2 separate regions of the Homo sapiens genome follow, and region 1 is linked to region 2. Evidence: fine-mapped expression QTL. A gene starts in region 2. The other region holds a variant in brackets. All regions are shown on one strand. Distances are from middle to middle.

What was found. PIP is the estimated chance that this variant, and not a neighbour inherited with it, causes the effect. A credible set is the group of variants that fine-mapping cannot tell apart.
Region 1: its variant is the best candidate, but not a certain one, in a credible set for the expression of AP1B1 in whole blood (INTERVAL, PIP 0.73).

Annotation. Positions count from the first base shown.
Region 1 is chr22:29,362,518-29,370,517 of GRCh38, forward strand. AP1B1 (adaptor related protein complex 1 subunit beta 1) reads right to left here. Exons shown (of 23, transcript NM_001127.4): 2 at 4,690-4,753; 3 at 484-589. The coding sequence starts at 4,726. Among named protein-coding and RNA genes, the nearest start is that of AP1B1, 22 kb to the right of the region's middle. The variant A/G (reference allele first, on the strand shown) is at 4,208.
Region 2 is chr22:29,384,752-29,395,848 of GRCh38, forward strand. AP1B1 (adaptor related protein complex 1 subunit beta 1) reads right to left here and starts at 3,819. Exons shown (of 23, transcript NM_001127.4): 1 at 3,673-3,819. It also overlaps a transcript of RFPL1 not described here.

The DNA of each region.
Region 1 (8,000 bases), 24 kb before region 2:
TGTATTTTTAGTAGAGACAGGATATCACCATATTGGCCAGGCTGGTGTCGAACTCCTGACCTCGAGATCCGCCCGCCTGGGCCTCCCCAAGTGCTAGGATTACAGGCGTGAGCCACCGCGCCTGGCCCAGATTTCCCATTCTTTTAAAAACCAGAAGACCTGGCCACACTGGGTCCTCTTCCCCAGCCAGTACTGATCCTCTGGAGTTTCTGAGAGGGTTCATGCCACACCCACTCCATTGCCTGCTGCCTTTCCCACCTACTCCAGTTAACTCACTCCATAACCACCTGACCTGTCAGTGTCTGGGCTCATGATTCCTGTGTAAACAAAACCTTCTATTGGGAAGAAAGTTTTATGAAGGGAGCTGTATGAGGGGAGACATGGGTCCCTAGACACCCTAAAGGAGAGACTGAAGTGGACCCAAGCTATAAACCCTCCCCTGTCAGCCAGCTTCTAGCTGCCACCAGGCCTACTCCTGCACACCTGACATCTTTGCCCACGGTCATCGATGCAATCACTTTCTTCACTGCCTCCTTCTTCTTCTCCTTCTTGTCACTGTTGAGCTCTGCCTTCAGCTCGAAGATCTCCCCTAAGGAAAGGAGGCAAGCATGAGTGATCCCTCCCTACCCTGGCAGGGGACAATTCCCAGTATCTAACTTCCAAAAGAACCGGAGGGAGGCACGTAAGACATCCTATGCTGTTGGCTGAGGGAAGCTTCAGGCGCCTGGCCTCAGGTGGGCCAGGCAACAGTGAGGGATGACTGTTAGGACAGGAATTAACAAGATGGAAACTTGTAGGCCGGGTGCAGTCGCTCATACCTGTAATCCCAGCACTTTAAAATGCTGAGGATTGGCCAGCACAGTGGCTCATGCCTGTAATCCCAGCACTTTGGGAGTCCGAGGCAGGCGGATCACGAGGTCAGAAGATCAAGACCATCCTGGCCAACATAGTGAAACCTTGTCTCTATTAAAATACAAAAAATTAGCCGGGCATAGTGGCGCGTGCCTGTAATCCCAGCTACTCGGGAGGCTGAGGCAGGGGAATTGCTTGAATCCGGGAGGTGGAGGTTGCAGTGAGGCAAGATGGCGCCACTGCACTCCAGCCTGGCGACAGGGCCAAGACTCCATCTCAAAAAAAAAAAAAGAGGCTGAGGATTACTTGAGCTCAGGAGTTTGAGATCAGCCTGGGTAACATAGTGAGACCTCGTTTCTACAAAATAATTTTTTTTAATTAGCCGGGTGTGGTGGCATGTGCCTGCCGTGCCAGCTACTCTGGAGGCTGAGGCTGAAGAATCGTTTGAGCCCAGAGATCGAGGTTGCCGTGAGCCATGACACCACTACACTCCAGCCTGGGGGACACAAAGTGAGATCCTGTCTCCAAAAAAAAAAAGTTTAGAGGCCACTCTGGATTGAAGCAACAGGAACCATGGAAGCTACAAAGGTTCTGAGGAAGACAAAAGCATCAAAAACATGATGGCAGGCTCTGCTCAGCCAGGGAGCTAAAACCCCAGTGGAAGGCAAAGCTGTCCTCAGCTACCCTCACTCAACAAAAGACCCTTAAAAGGCTCAGTGCAATAGAACCTGAGTACTTAAGGCTTGCGGGGTGAGAGCAGGATTTGTGGATTCCCACATGAAGGCCTTTCCTGTTTTCCTCAAACCTCTAATTAAAACAGCTTGTTCAGGGTTTCACTTCCTGAGACACAAGTGGTTGGTTGCTCAGCTCTGAAAACAGGAATTCAGCTGCTCCATGAGAGCTCAAGCATGAAATCAATTGTTCTGAAGAACTTCATGACATGAAAAAAACAAATGAGGAAGCAGGGTTGTCTGGCCCTGCCATGGACAGATAGTCAGGACCCTGATAACAGGTTAGGAGGGCAGATGTCATTTCCTGACCCCTTCTCTTTTATTTTTTATTTTTTTGAGACAGAGTCTTGCTCTGTCACCCATGCTGGAGTGCAGTGGCCCCATCTCAGCTCACTGCAACTTCTGCCTCCTGGGTTCCAGCAATTCTCCTGCCTCAGCATACCGGGTAGCTGGGACTACAGGCGTGCGCCATCACACCCAGCTAATTTTTGTATTTTTAGTACAGACGGGGTTTCACCATGTTGGTCAGGCTGGTCTTGAACTGATCTCGTGATCCGCCCGCCTTGGTCTCCCAAAGCACTGGGATTACAGGCATGAGCCACCACGCCCGGCCATTTTTTTTTTTTGAGACATAGTCTCACTCTGTCACCCAGGCTGGAGTGCAGCGGTGCGATCTCGGCTCACCGCAACTTCCGCCTCCCGGGTTCAAGCAATTCTGCTGCCTCAGCCTCCCAAATAGCTGGAACTATAGGCGGACACCATCAAACCCTCCTAATTTTTGTATTTTTAGTAGAGACGGGGTTTCACCATGTTGGCCCGGCTGGTCTCAAACTCCTGACCTCAGGTGATCCACCCGCCTCAGCCTCCCAAAGTGTTGAGACTACAGGCCTGAGCCACCATGCCCGGCCCCTCTAAGCCCTTCTCTAAGCCTAGTCCCATACTAACTTGTTCCCACACATTTTCTTATTTCATCCTCACAACTCTGCATTTCCCTCCGTTTTGCAAATGGAGGCTGTGAGAGGCTCAGTAACGTATAGCCAATGCTGGTAGGGGGCAGGGCTGAAACTGAAAACCAGGTCTGCTAGCTCCAAAGCCCATGCTCTCAATCCCTATGCTTGGGCCTACCCAAGATACCCACTTTGCTTTCCTAAACCTGTTTCCTTGTCTCTTTGGCTGGAGCATTGAACCCAGGCATGTCTGTCCACACATCTCTCTTCCCAAAAGAAATCCACTAAAAAACCCCAACCCCAAAATAAAAAAAATAGCTGGGCATGGTGGCACGTGCCTGTAGTCCCAGCTACTTGGGAGAATTGCTTGAACCCAGGAGGCTGCAGTGAGCAGAGATCTTCCCATTGCACTCCAGCCTGGGTGACAGAGACTCTGTCTCAAAAAAAAACAAACAAACAACAAAACCCACCCCTGGGACTCCAATACACTCAGCACTACGTTCACCCTGTGGCTCACCAGGCTCCACAAGACTGATCCCTGCGTACCTCTCCAATTGCTTTCTCTCTTTTTTCAATTAGTTGCCCAGGCTAGACTCGAACTCCTGGGCTCAAGCAAGTAATCCTCCCACCCAAGCCACCACCTGGGGCGCCACTGTGCCTGGCTCTAACCTCTTCTTGTATCACCCTCCTCGGTAGCTCATGCCCACTACCTTCCTTTCCCCAAATGTGTCACAGGCACAGCACTCACTCCTTCCCCTTCCTATCCCCCATCGATCTGGCCAGCTCCACCCAGAGCTCTCCCACAGTCCCCCCTGGACCCAGTACACTTCAGTGTGGTTACTACTCTACAGACTGTCTTCCCTGCTCAACCTTGAGCAACACCAGGTCAGAGGCTCTGTTTCTTTTCCACTGCACATGGTAGGTTCTCAGTAAAAACCAGCTAGACCAATACATGAAATGCCTGATGAGGGGCAGACTTCGGGTCCTGGATCAGCTGATCCAGCAACAGACTCTTTTCATCTGGTCGGCAGGCATGTGTCAGTATCACTTGGAAGGAAGGAGGGAGGAATAAAGGGCTGGCCAGAAAGATGCTTACAGGGTTAAAGCACATTTGTCAGCCACGACGACATCCTCCATTTCCTTAAAAGCAGAAACAACCAAAATACCCAATGATATAAGCCTAGCTTAGCAAATTTCAGTGTAGCTACTCAATAGACTTAATAGTGAGTCATTAGAATTGTTGGGAAATGTTTATGATATCAAAACATCAAATGAAAAACAGGATTAAAACGATGAAAATACATGCCTGACCGGCCGCGGTGGCTCACGCCTGTAATCCCAGCACTTTGGGAGGCTGAGGGGGCGGATCACCTGAGGTCAGGAGTTTCAGACCAGCCTGACCAACATGGAGAAACCCCGTCTCTACCAAAAATACAAAATTAGCCGGGCATGGTGGTGTAATCCCAGCTACTTGGGAGGCTGAGGCAGGAGTATCACTTAAACCTGGAAAGCGGAGGTTGTGGTGAGCTGAGATCAGCGCCATTGCACTCCAGCCTGGGCAACAAGAGCGAAACTCCGTCTCAAAAAAACAAGAAAGAAAAATTAGCTGGGCATAGCGGCGGGCGCATGTAATCCCAGCAATTCCGGAGGCTGAGGCAGGAGAATAACTTCAACTCG[A/G]GAGGCGGAGGTTGCAATGAGCCAAGATCGCACCACTGCACTCCAGCCTGGGTGACATGAGTGAAACTCCGTCTCAAAAAAAAAGAAAAACACGTGCCCTTGGATAAGGACACACACACACACACACACACACACACACACACACACACACACACACAACTGCTGTGGGGGTGTTGATAGGATTCTGTGTTTTCTTTCCCCTGGAAAAAAACATAATTATTTTAAGCCATGGGAAATAAAAGGGCACTTTTTTTCCCCACACTTGGAGCTAATGTTCTTCCCTTTCTGAGCTCTAAAAGGAGTGGTCAATTTCTTATATCATCAACAGTTCAATTTTCTAGATCTACCACAAGCTCTAGGCCATTCCTGCCACATGTTTCCAGGCCTTCATTCCCACCCCTACTCCCTACCGCCATAGGAGGAAAACAGAAGGGACAGGAAGAGAAAGCATAGGACAAGGCCCATTATTAAACAAGTAATACCTTTCTTGGTCGTGGTGAAATATTTTGAGTCAGTCATTTTGGTCCCTTATCTGTAGCCAGGCTTCTGCAAGAGAGAGAAGAGAGGGGTGACTTTCAGTTATGCTCCATCCCATCTTCAGTTATGGTGCAGAGGGAGGAGAAGGATCCAGAACACATGTGGTACAGGAAAACAGCTGCTTATCTATTTCCTGGAGAAACAAACTTTAGATCATGGCAGATTAGATTTTGAAAAGTAATTCTGAGGAATCTATCAACCTTTTTTTTTTTTTTTTCTTCAGAGATGGGATCTCACCATGTTGCCCAGGCTGGTCTCAAACTCCTGGGCTCAGCCAATCCTCCTGCCTCGGCCTCCCAAAGTGCTGGGATTACAGGTGTGAGCCACCACACCTGATCCCATCAAATTTTTGAATGTGCCTCTTCTAGAAATCTTTCCCACAAAAATATCTGCACAAGGATGGATGGGCTTACAGCAGCCCCTTTGTGGGACCCACTTTGCTCAGCACTGTCCTAAATGCTTGGCACACATTAACTCATTAGGAGCCTCATCACAGCATCATCAAGGCACGATATTACCCTATACAGTCAAATAAGATTAGAAAATACCAAGCTTAAAAGGCTAGGGAGACTTCTTCTCCCCACAACTTTTCTAAGCTGCTAAAATAGTAACATGCCTGATTCATCTCTGGAAAGGGCTAGAATCTGTACTCTACAGCAGTTCCCAAATCTACCTGGCCAGTTTTCTTAAAGGCTCTCTCAGGACATCTCCTAGCGCAAAGCTCACAGCGTGAAGTACTATTGTAGACAATAGGGGCTGGGCACCACAGCTCATGCCTGTAATCCCAGCACTTTGGGAGGCTGAGGCGGGTGGATCACCTGAGGTCAGGAGTTTGAAACCAGCCTGGCCAACATGGTAAAAACCATCTCTACTAAAAATACAAAAAATTAGCCAGGCGTGGTAGTGTGTGCCTGTAATCTCAGTTACTTGGGAGGGTGAGGCAGGAGAATCACTGGAACCCAAGAGACTGAGGCTGCAGTAAGCTGAGACCACACCACTGCACTCCAGCCTGGGAGACAGAGCAAGACTCTGTCTCAGAAAAAAAAAAGACAATAGGACAAAGAAAGTACTGAAGCTCTGCCATTCATTTAACAAAAATCATTTAACAAAAATTTACTGAGCATCTCCTATGTACCTCAGTAGTTCTTCTGGGCAACAGATGAAAGAAAAGAAGTTACACAGGAACCAAGATACCCTAGATACATTTATTAAGAATCTATCATTTACTGAGCCCCTATTAAAGGCAGGGGCTTCGCCCACATTATCTCACTTAATCTTGTCAATAATGTAACTGCTTTGAATCCCATTTTACAAATGATGAAACGGACTCAGCGATGTTACATGACGTGCCCAAGGTCAAATGGCTTGTAAGTGGCTGGGCTGGGAGACCATCTCAGGCCTACCTGAGCTTAGTTCCTATGCTCTATTGAAGGAATTCTGTTTCCCCCTTCTGACGAGGAGGACAGTTCCCTGATAGTGGCTAAAGGATTCAGTCAAAAAAAAAAAAAAAAATTGAGGCCGGACGCAGTGGTGCACACCTGTAGTCCCATCTACTTGGGAGGCTGAGTGGCACAAGAAGCACTTGAACCCAGGAGGCAGAAGTTGCAGTGAGCTGAGACTGTGCCACAGCACTCCAGTGTGGTGACAGAGCAAGACTCTGTCTCCCCGCCCCACCCCCGCAAAAAAAAAACACATTGAGACTTTCAAGTACAGCCTTCCAATCCTACCTGTAGTTTTATGTGGTATAGAAAACCACACAACTCCAAAAAACAGACATTTGAATGGAGAAAACCCACTTCACTTTATCTCTTTTGTTGCGTCTATGGAAGGGACTCAAACAAATAACCCACCAATATCTCCTTTCAAGTCATTACTATACGGGGGCAAGATGAAAGTTACTAGTGCAACGGATGTGAGGGATCAGGAGTCATTTCACAGCCTCTGGAAACCAAGCCAACACAGCACCTCCTCTCCAGCCCAATTGGATTTTTCCAAATTAAGCTTGTATTTATGGCAGGATGGCACTGAGCAAGCCTCCCAACCGAGAGACACCCATAGATTTTGTTTCAGTAATCACTGGGAAACAAATACGTACTGTCTTGGGGTCACCTTAAATCCTTTGTGGATCCTGAAGGAATAAAGGAATAAAGGCTTCACTGACAAAACAGTACAAAAAAAGGCACAATTCTACTTCCCTTTTGCTTTGCAAAGTTGAAAAGGAAGGATGGCACTTTTCTATGGGAGCTGCAGGAAAGAGCAGAAGAGCCCACTGCGTCTGATGTTGCAAGTCCCACAGTGGGGACTCTAAACTTGCTGGTCCTCCCAGCATGAGTCATGGCTGTAGACAGATCCACAAAGGAAGGCCCCGCATGCGCCAGGCTCACAGCTCCCGTTCGCCCTCCTCTTTCATGCCTGGCCCAGGCCCGGCACATAGCAAGTATTCAATTGATAGTTGTTGAAAGAAATGAAAAGGGGCCACTGAAAATCCCAGGGAGCCTCAGCCTGCTCTCTGGCAGCCCTGTTACGTAACTAGTTAGCATTTGTTTCCAACAGGAATTTACCGACATTAAAAACGATTTTTTTTTTTTTTTTTTTTTGCACACACATAAAGCCATTTTCTCAAAGAAACCTCACCAACCTAGGGGTTCTTTGGGGACCTCTGAAAATGGGCAGGTAAATCAGATAATGGGATTTCTGTCTTACAATAAAGATCTGCATGGTTCCAGAAGTCACAGACTTGAGAGTGTAACTGCCAAAAGTATCCAAAATAATAGGATAATATCATTTCTCAAGGTTGAGTGTAAGAGGGATAACTGAAGACAAAAGGGGCTAAAACTCACAGGCCACAAAGAAACACAGAAAGTAACACAGAAACCACTCCAACATTAAATCTAAAAAGAAACAAAAGTGGCCGGGCGTGGTGGCTCATGCCTGTAATCCTAGCACTTTGGGAGGCTGAGGTGGGCAGATTGCCTGAGCTCAGGAGTTTGAGACCAGCCTGGGCAACATAGTGAAACCCCGTCGCTACTAAAATACAAAAAATTAGCTGGGCGTGGTGGCATGTGCCTGTAGTCCCAGCTACTCGGGAGGCTGAGGCAAGAGAATTGCTTGAACTCAGGAGGTGGAGACTGCAGTGAGCTGAGATCGTGCCACTGCACTCCAGCCCGAGCGACAGAGTGAGACTCAGTCTCAAAAAAAAAAAAAAAAAGAAAGAAAGAAAGAAAGAAAAGTGAATAAAACAAACAAAATACCTTAG
Region 2 (11,097 bases):
CAGCTACTCTGGAGGCTAAGGCATGAGAATTGCTTGAACCCGGGAGGCGGAGGTTGCAGTGAGCCAAGATCGCGCCACTGCACTCCAGCATGGGCGAAAAAGCGAGACTCTGTCTGGAAAAAAAAAAAGAGCTATTTACTTAGAAGAGAGCCAAATAAACAATCACAACCCACTGTGACCCTTGCCAGAGGGCATCAAGGAGGGGCATCTAGCTCAGACCTAGGGGTGATGATCAGATGGGAAGAACCAAGTAGCACTCCAGCTAGGCAGGTAAGGTTGGGAGAGCAGGAAATGGTGTTCAGGCAGAGGGAAGAGTGCAAAGCAAAGACAGAGAGGTATAAAGAGTTGGGAGGCCAGGTGTGGTGGCTCACGCCTGTAATCCCAGCACTTTGGGAGGCCCAGACAGAAGGACTGCTTGAGGCCAGGGGTTTGAGACCAGCCTGAGCAATATAGCAAGACTCCATCTCTACAAAAAATAAAAACAATTTGCCAGGCACAGTGGCACCCATCTGTAGTACTAGCTACTTGGGAGGCTGAGGCAGGAGGATCGTTCAAGCCCAGGAGTTGGAGCCTGCAGTGAGCTATGACAGCTCCACTGTACTACAGTCTGGGTAACAAGCCAAGATCCTGTCTCGAAAAAAGAAAAAGAGTTGGTGCTTGCAGAAGTAGCAAGTAGCTGAGGTTGACTGGAGCTTGGGAAAAGGTGAGTGTGGAGCAGGAGAGATGACAAAAGAGAGCTAGGCAGGGGTCAGAGTCCAAAGGGCCTTGAATGCCATGCTAAGGAATGTGAGTTTTAGCCCGAGGGCAACTAGGAGCCACTGATGAATTTTCAAGCAGAATTTTCTTTAAGGATTCCCCAACTGCTCTGTTGACATTTTTTCTCAGGAGTATTTGTTCCTCTCCATGTGAAGACATAAAGAACAGAAAAATCACTTCTGGGCTGTGATAATATCAACGATGTCTCTTAGGCAAAAAGACCTGCTGAGAAAAAGAAATGTCTGCAAGGCACAGATGTCACCTCAACCTTCAGAAACACAGCGAAGTGCAAAACCCAAGCCATGTTTGCTTACTGTCAGCATGTCAGGCTTTGGTGCCAGACACGGGAAGTTCCTGGGAAGTAGTTAAGACATGCAAGAGTTTCAGAGGATGACTAGAAAAAGATGCAAGCCCAAGCTCAAAGCCAGAAGGACCAACAAATTGAACTTGTTCTGAACTACTTTTAGGAAGTGAAACAAGAAGGGTGGAAAAAGTCCTGCGTACATTAAGGTCTCTGTTTGCAGAAGGAAGTAACGCTCCAGAAGCCAAGGTTGGCAGCCTTCCTCAGACACAGGCCCCCAGCAGGCATCAGTCTGCCTAGAGTCAAAGCACCCAAAAATCACAGGCCCTGCACAAATTTTCCCATCTAACCCTCACACAAACCAGGGGTAGAGGAGTCAGAAAGGGTGGCCAGTATTATTTTAGAACTGAGGTAAAGGAGGGCCAGCCTATGTCAACGGTCCAGGTCAGGTCACACTGCCAGGAAGCTGCTGAGCTGGGGTTGAACCCAGGGCTGACTGACTGGGAGTCTGGTGATCTTTCCATCATACCTCTGGGCTCTTGAAGCAGCTCAGGGTGAAGCCTCCACTGACCTACACTCAACAGATGATCTTCACACAATCTCTGAGGGATCTGACTCTTTGAGACCTACTGAAGATGCTCCTCATGACAGTTTCTAAGAGGTCAGAGGAGACTGGTGGGCTCAACTCAGGACAGAAAACCAGAAGCTCTGAGCTCTGCTCATGTTCCTACCCTCTGTGACAAGTTGCTTCATCTCAAATCCTCCCTTGGAAGGATGGGAATATAAGGTGACAATATTAAGTTTCTGTGAATTCAATGGAACTAGGAGAATAGATCACACAGCTTAAAAAAAAAAGGTATTACAGTAATATTTATATACAGCTTTCTTCAGAAGCCATGTGGAAGCCCTCACGGGTTCATTCACAGGTTCATACCCCTAGGAGCAGACAGGAAGGCGGCAGGTCTTTCTCATGTTGATGTCAGGGAAACTGAGGCAGAATTGAAGCAAGTGAATATCCGCAATGGAATGAGGCTTAGATTCATACAGCCTAGTCCTCCAGCCACCAAACCGTCTCACCACCTCCCAAGTAAGACGTGCTCTGCTCTGGCAAGAAGCCATGGGGCCTGCATATTTCTCAGAAAGGCAAAGATTCTTCCTCTGGGTACCTTCTTCCAGAACCTAGGACCAAAAGATCCCCTAGAGGTCATGTGGTTCCTCTCTTTTTAGACCAAAACGAATGCAGCTCAACCACTCTGAAGAGAAGTTCTCGACAATCTTCAAATAGTTTTCACGGATAGCCTGTTTTGTGTCTCACTGTTCCCTAAAGTCAGGAAAATCTTAGACTCTTGCCCTGAAAGGTATCACTAATAGCAACAGCCTGTAGGATTGTTTTATCCTAAAGAAAGTAAGTCGAATGCCCCTTATGAAGATCAGACAAAAAGCAATAAGGCTACATCGTGACATAAATCCAAATAAATACAACGGCAGCTAAAAATCTTTTTTTTTTTTTTTTTTTTGAGACGGAGTCTCACTCCGTGGCCCAGGCTGGAGTGCAGTCGCACGATCTCGGCTCACTGCAACCTCCACCTCCTGGGTTCAAGCGATTCTCCTGCCTCAGCCTCCCAAGTAGCTGGGATTACAGGCGTACGCCACCATGTCTGGCTAATTTTTGTATTTTTATTGGAGACAGGGTTTCACCATGTTGGTCAGGCTGGTCTTGAACTCCTGACCTCACGATCCACCCGCCTCAGCTTCCCAAAGTGCTGGGATTACAGGCGTGAGCCACCATGTCTGGCTAAAAGTCTTAAATATCCCCTACACCCCAACCTTAACTCCAGTCTTTCCTTTGTCTCTGTACTTTGCAGGTCTCTGACAGCCTGGCAGAAAACCTGGCCTTGCCTCTACTACCCGAATGACCTTACATGTGGGATTTAACCTCTCTGTGCCTCAGGGTCCTCATCGATAAAATAGGGATATTTAATCCCCACAAAGGTTGCTGTGAAGTTTAAATGTGTCATTGTAAGGAAAGTGCTTAGCACAGTGCCCGGTACACAGAAGGGACTCGATAGCCACTAGCAAGCATCTCCCTCGTTATTTTGCAGCATTATCACCGGTGTCTCCATTCAGTTAACTTGTCTTAGAGGCTCCAACAAACAAGACCAAGCCAGTGCCTAGCCGGAGGCGGGCGGCACGGGACCGTTTTCTAGTTTTTTTTTCTTTCTTCTTTTTCAACCTTGGCAAAGAGATAACGCCCTGAACAACGAGGAGGCCTCAGGATGGCCATGGAGGTGAGTCCGAAAGAGGAAATCAGAGCCCGAAGAGTTTTCCCTCAGGCCAGTGGGGAATTCCTCGGGGCCTAAGTCCTGTCTCTCCGGGCGGAAGCCCCAGGAGGTGCTGCGGGTATGGGGCGGCCGAGGAACAGGCCGGCGGCCAAGTGGGCGCGAATGAATGAACGAACCCTCAGCCCTTCCTCCTCCTCTGGCTGGGGACGTCGCTCGCGCCCCTGCAGCGCCGCGTCCTCTTCATGACCTCTGACCCCGCAAACCCCTCACCTAGGACCCCTGACCCCTCGCCCCACTTCTTCTCCTGGCTCGCCCGGGTCCCCGCTTCCTCACCCGCAGGTCCCAATAGCTCCCGGCGCCCCGGCTCGGTTCGGCTTGGCACCAAAATGTCCGCGGCCTCCACCTCTCGCTCTCCCGGTGCGTCCGGGCTGCCGGCGGCTCGGAGCCCCGCGGCTGTCACCTGCCGGGCGGAAGTGAGCTGCCCGCGCGCGGGTACTTCCGGTGGACGCAAGGCCTGAAGGCGGGGTCAAGGGTACAACCCTGGCGGGGGTGGTGCCCGTGGGGCGGGGCAAGAAAAGGGGAAGAGCCCAACGGTATTAACCCCTCGGCAGCCGCGGCGCTGCTATGCTGCAGTCTCCCGCAGAGCCCTTGGGAAACCATCCCGCTAGCCAATTCAGCGTGAGGGGGCCGGGCAAGGTCGTAGGGAGTTTGAAGTCCATCTTCTGTGTAAAGACGGCAAATCTGAGGTTCTAAGAGGGGCAGGGTTTTGCTCAAGGTCACTCATTTTTTGTTTGTTTGTTTGAAATAGGGTCTTGCTCTGTTGCTCAAGCTAGAGTGCAGTGGCTCGAAGATCTGGGCTCACTGCACCCTCCGCCTCCCAGGCTCAGGTGATCCTCTCACCTCAGCCTCCCAAGCAGCTGGGACCACAGGTGCGCAGCACTACGCCCGGCTAATTACTTATTATTTACTTATTTATTTTTTGTAGAGAGAGTCTCACTTTATTGCTCAGGCTGGTCTCGAAATCATGGACCCGAGAGATCCTCCCGCCTCGGCTTCCCAAAGTGCTGGGATTACAGAGGGGTCTCTCTCTGTCCAAACTAGGTTTACAGCTCTAGTTTGGACCCCTCCATTCTTAAGATGAGTGACCTTGAGCCAGACACAGTGGCTCATACCTGTAGTCCCAGCTACTCGGGAGCCTGAGGCAGGAGAATAGCTTGAGCCCAGGAGGTTGAGGTTACAGTGAGCTATAATTGCAGCACTGCACTCCAGCCTGGGCGACAGATCCAGACCCTGTCTCAAAAAAAGAAAAAAAATGGCCGGGCATGGTGGCTCACACCTGTAATCCCAGCACTTTGGGAGGCCGAGGCGGGCGGATCACAAGGCCAGGAGATCGAGACCATCCTGGTTAACATGGTGAAACCCCGTCTCTACTAAAAACACAAAATATTAGCCGGGTGTGGTGGCAGGCGCCTGTAGTCCCAGCTACTCAGGAGGCTGAGGCAGGAGAATGGCGTGAACCCGGGAGGCAGAGCTTGCAGTGAGCCGACATCACACCACTGCACTCCAGCCTGGGCGACAGAGCAAGACTCCGTCTCAAAAAAAAAAAAAAAGAAAAAAGAAAAAAACCATCTGCAATCCCACTGACCTAAGACAATCACTTTTAATATTTTGGTGAATATTCTTCCAAACTTGATAGATCATTTGTTTTTTTTTGTTTGTTTGTTTTGAGACAGGGTCTCGCTCTGTTGCCCGGACTGGAGTGCAGTGTCGTGATTTTGGCTCACTGCAACCTCTGCCTCCCAGGTTCAAGCGATTCTCCTGCCTGGGCCTCCCAAGTAATTGGGATTACAAGCATGCACCACCGTGCCCAGCTAATTTTTGTATTTTTAGTAGAGGCGGGGGTTTCACCATGTTGACCAGGCTGGTCTTGAACTCCTGACCTCAAGTGATCTGCCCACCTCAGCTTCCCAAAGTGATGGGATTATAGGCGTGAGCCACTGTTGGTATTTTTTAACTCACCAAAATATTGGTAAAAGTTTCCCAAAATAGTAAATACATTTCTACTTGGCACTTTCCAGTATCTGCATAGTATTCCATTACGTGGATGGTACTGCTAATCTCAAAAACAATCCCCTGAGGTTGTTATCCATCTTTTTTAATATTATCAAAAAGTTGTTAATAAATAAGCTTGCACTTACTGCTAAGTGCACTTATTGCTAAGTCTCTACGTCCTATCTAATATAGATATTACTGGTTTTTATATTTAATATAATTTTAGATGTTTAAGCAGCCTCAAAGCCTTTAAAAGTTATTTTTAAATAATTATAGACTTACAGGAAATTGCAAAATTAGTACCAAAATTGAGTCCCATATACCCTTCACCCAGCTTCCCACAATGGTGACATTTTATATATCTGCAGTATAATAGCAAAAGCAGGAAATTGGTGGTGTTGGTAAAATACCGTTATCTAAATTACAAACCTTATTCCATTTTTATTTATTTATTTATTTATTTATTTATTTTAGACGGAGCCTCGCTCCATCACCCAGGCTGGAGTTCAGTGGCTCGATCTCGGCTCACTGCAAGCTCCGCCTCCCGGGTTCACGTCATTCTCCTGCCTCAGCTTCCCGAGTAGCTGGGACTACAGGCGCCCGCCACCACGCCCGGCTAATTTTTTTTGTATTTTTAGTAGAGACGGGGTTTCACCGTTGTTAGCCAGGATGGTCTGGCTCTCCTGACCTTGTGATCCGCCCGCCTCAGCCTCCCAAAGTGCTGGGATTACAGGTGTGAGCCACCGTGCCCGGCCACCTTATTCCATTTTTAAATCCTTTTTAAAAGTAGTCAGGGAGGCCATCCTGGCTAACACAGTGAAACCCCGTCTCTACTAAAAAATACAAAAAATTAGCCGGACATGGTGGTGGGTGCCTGTAGTCCCAGCTACTCAGGAGGCTGAGGCAGGAGAATGGCGTGAACCCGGGAGGTGGAGCTTGCAGTGAGCCAAGATTGCACCACTGCACTCCAGCCTGGGCGACGGAGTGAGACTCTGTCTCAAAAAAAATAAAAATAAAAAAGTAGTCAGGGAACAAATGGAATTTTTTTTTCTTTTGGCTTCAACAATGGAATTTATTTTCTCACAGTGCTGGGGACTGGAAGTCTAAGATCAAGGTGTTGGCATGGCTGCTTTCCTCTGAGGCCTCTCTCCTTGGCTTGTAGATGGCCGCCCTCTTGCTATGTCCTCACACGATCTTTCCTCTGTGTGCCTGGAATAATTTTATGTGTATGTATGTGCCATGCAGCATGTGTGATATGCAACTTTCTGGAGGAACTGCCCTTCTCTGATGATAGATGTTGGTAAATGCCACCCGCCTCAGTGGAAAACAAAATTTCATTGGGAATGTAACATCAGAAGAGAAAAATTATCCTACAAAACAAACCAACAAACCTAAAGGTATCAAGCTGGAGAGCTTATGTGCAAGTGGCAAGTCAGTGGTTGAAGGAGTCAGAGCTTTAAGATTTCCAAGGAGGGAGAGGTCACAGCACCGGGCGGCTCAGGAAGGACTTCCTGGGGAAGATGGCATTTGCGCTGTCTTGCCGAATGAGAACAGAGTTGCGTAGGCTGAGAGAGAAGGAAAGGGTAATCCAGAGAAAAGAACTGTGCCGAGGCAGGAAAACCTCACGGGCCCACCCCCACGCCCAGTGCAAGGGAGCCAGGTGTCTGAGTCCTGCAGAAAGCATTTTCCAAGCCTCTGGTTTCAGCCAGGCCCTGGGCTGGGTGCTGGATAGTCAGATGGGTGAGGCTAAGGCCCTGCCCTTGCTCAGCCTACAGTTTGCAGGGAGAGGGGGTGACAGAGGAGCAAGTCACAAGTGTGACTGATGCTGTGAGAGGGGACATACTGGGAGGCTATGGGAGTCCAGAGCTAAAACTGAAGTTCCTTTGGGTTGGAGGGACCAGGGATGCCTGGACAAGTAGAAGGTTTTTGTTGTTGTTGTTGTTTTGTTTTTGGTGAGCCGGGGTCTTGCTCTGTCCCCCAGGCTGGAGTGGAGTGGCAGCAATCTCGGCTCACTACAACCTCTGCCTCCCGGGCTCAAGCAATTCTCCTGCCTCAGCCTCTCGAGTCGCTGGGATTACAGGCGCCCACCACCAAACCCAGCTAATTTTTGTATTTGTAGTGGAGATGGGGTTCCAACCTGTTGACCAGGCTAGTCTTGAACTCCTGACTTCAGGTGATCCGCCCGCCTTGGCCTCCCACAGTGCTGGGATTATAGGCATGAGCTACCACACCTGGCTTTTTTTTTTTTTTTTTTTTTTTTTTTTTTTTTAAGACAGAGTCTCCGTCACTCAGGCTGGAGTGCAGCTGTGCAAATTTGGTTCACTGCAACTTCTGCCTCCCAGGGTCAAGCAATCCTCCTGCCTCAGCCTCCCAAGTAGCTGGGACTGCATTTGCACACCACCATGCCTGGTTAATTTTTGTATTTGTAGTAGAGATGGGGTTTTGCCATGTTGGCCAGGCTGGTCTCAAACTCCTGACCTCAAGGGATCCACCTCCAAAGTGCTGGGATTACAGGCATGAGCCAACACACACGGCCAAGTAGAGTGTATTTAATCAGGAACTGCAGAACAACAGTGAATGTTTATGGAACATGTAGCGTGGCAGGTAGTGTGCAGAAAATCTCATTTGCTCCTGACATCGGCCCCATGAGGAAGGGGTTGTTTTAGCTCCATTTCATCTTGGGGGGAACTTCAACCCTGAGAACTTAAATAGCATGTGAGTGACAAGGCTGAGGGCCTGGTCCCAGAGCCCCAGCTGTCATGAGTTTCATTCATTCTCCTAAAATATAATCATCACTGCCATCTGAGCCAGGAACACTGGGGATGCAACAGTGAACAGGGTATGGCACAATCCCCCCTTGGGGGCTCACTGTTGAGTATGGGAGAAAGATAAACAAAGGGACAATTATAACTCAGAGTGGTAGGAAGTACCAGGGAGGCACAGGGGATGCAGGCACCAAATTCAGCCTGGGAAAGTCAGGGAAGTCTTCCTGGAGGAAGTGACACCCAACCTGAACTGTGAAGGGTGAGACTACTACTAATAGTTAACCATTAACCAGGCACTGTGTGAAGCGCCTCTGCATATTAACTCATTAAACTTTCCCAATAATTCCATGACAGTTCCATGACTGTCCCCAAGTAGAGATAAGGAAAAGACCAGTGGGTAGAACTGATTTCTTCCCTACTTCCATGAGGGCCTGGACCTGCTCTCCCACAGCATGATCTGGCAGGAGAGCTAAAAATATACTAGTAAGAGGAAGTACAGTTCAAAGTAAAAGGCTGGATAATTACAGCTTGCAGAGGTGGGTGACAGAAGTGGGGAAGGGAGCATCTAAGGGAACTTCCCTCTCTGCCCCCACCACTAAACCCACCTAGCTACACTGCCTGAGTCATCCACACCATCAAATGCTGACAGCTACAACTGGAACTGCCACACCTGGGGCACATGTGGGTGCCCCGGCCCTCTGAGACCCCAGGCCCAGGAGAAACTCCTTGCCCTAGGATGTGGGGAGCAGAGCCAATGGTAGCCAAGCCCACCTGGATAGAGAGAGAGAGAGAGAGAGGGCGCTGGCTTCCTCCCAAGAAATACATACTTCCTGACAATAATACTACCTCCTGGCTAGTTTTTATTTTTATTTATTTATTTATTTTGAGACAGAGTCTCACTCTTTTTGCCCAATCTGCCTACCACACCCAACTAATTTTTGTATTTTTAGTAGAGATGGGGTTTCACCATGTTGGCCAGGCTAGTCTCGGAACTCCTGACCTTAAATGATCTGCCCGCCTTGGCCTCCCAAAGTGCTGGGATTACAGGCATGAGCCACCACGCCCGGCCTATTTTTATTTGTTTTAGAGATGAGGTCTCACTATGTTGCCCAGGCTGGTCTCAAACTCCTGGCCTCAAGTGATCCTCCTGCTTTGGCCTCCAAAGTTCTGGGATTACAGGTATGTGCCCCTGTGCCCAGCCAGGACATTTTAAAACTTTTCTCCAAGCCCCAGTGTTTTTATACCCTGCCCGATTTGAGCTGGCTGGTGGAGACAGGGCTGTCCAGTTCTTTGTTTTTGAGACAGAGTTTCGCTTTTGTTGCTGCAAGCTCCGCCTCCTGGGTTCAAGTGATTCTCTTGCCTCAGCCTCCCGAGTAGCTGGGATTACAGGCCTGTGCCACCACTCCTGGCTAATTTTGTTTGTTGTTGTTTTTGTTTTGTTTTGTTTTGTTTTGAGACGGAGTCTCGCTGTGTCGTCCAGGCTGGAGTGCGGTGGTGCGGTCTTGGCTCACTGCAACCTCCACCTCCTGGGGTCAAGCCATTCTCCTGCCTCAGCCTCCCGAGTAGCTGGGATTACAGGCACCCACCACCATGCCTGGCTAATTTTTGTATTTTAGTAGAGAAAGGGTTTCACCATGTTGGCTAGGCTGGTCTCGAACCCCTGACCTCAGGTGATCTGCCCGCCTTGGCCTCCCAAAGTGCTGGGATTACAGGCGTGAGCCACTGCACCGGGCCTGGCCAGTTCTTTGGGCCTCAGTTTCTCTTCTCTGCGAACTGTGCACCCACCATGGGCCAAGCATCGTTGTATGCCCTTGACATCCATCAATTCATTTAACTCTCACCGTTCTCAATAGGTAGATGCTAAGATAACCCCATTTTACAGATGAGGCCACTGAAGTCCTGAAATGTTGAGGGACTTTCCCAGCTTCCCAAAGCAGCAATGGGCCTAGCGGAGAGTCAAGGCCAGGGCTGATGACGGCAGGCCTCATGCTTTCTTCTCCACTCACCCTTACCTGCTTCATGAGGTTTCATCCAATGCCAGGAAGGTTGAGAGTTCGTGCGGTCTCGTGAAATGACCCACTGTGACCCCTGCCACTGGCATTCTGTGACCCTCAGCAAGTCCCTTCCCCTTTCTGATACTCAGAATCTCAGAGCAAAGTCCTTCCCATCCTCCCTCCACAATGAATGGGTGCATAAGTACATGAACAAATTAAGTATTCTTCCCCTCTGCGCCCACTAGAGTGCGCACAGGTGCCACTAACCGCCACCGTTCCCTTCAATTGCCATCCTTTCACAGGGGCCGCTGTGCCTTTCTATATACATTCCCAGCCTTTCCGCACTCTTGTTCCTCTGTGATTACTATTCCTCTACTCCAGTCTCTGTTTGCTTGCTGGTTTTTGTTGTTTTCATCCTGCAAATCTCTAAAAGTTGCCACAGAGCCTTTCTAAAAGGAGGCAGGAGGTGGCTTTGTCCATAGCCTCAGGAACACCAGCCTCCACCTGCTTGCTGAGGGCAGGCAGCTTCCCATCCCTCCCGCCCAGCCCAGGCCTGGCACAACCCCCAGGGCAGAGAGGCCTAGAGCTTGCCAGGGATCCCAGCCTTTGCCTCCAGCTCTCCTTGCTGCAGATGTCCTCAGTGCACCATTTCTAGTCTTCCCAGTAGCAAATTCCTGCTCAGCCCCTCCTAGCTGTACACCACAGGCTCCCTCTTGAAGAGCTCTGCTCTCTCAGGTACCCCTGTGCTGAACTACCCTCCGCCGATGCATCGAAAAAGCCCAGGCTCTCAGATGGGCACAGTGGCTCACACCTGTAATCCCAGCACTTTGGGAGGCTTAGGCAGGTGGATCACCTGAGGTCAGGAGTTCCAGACCAGCCTGGCCAATATGGTGAAACCCTGTCTCTACTAAAAACACAAAAATTAGCTGGGGATGGTGGTGAGTGCC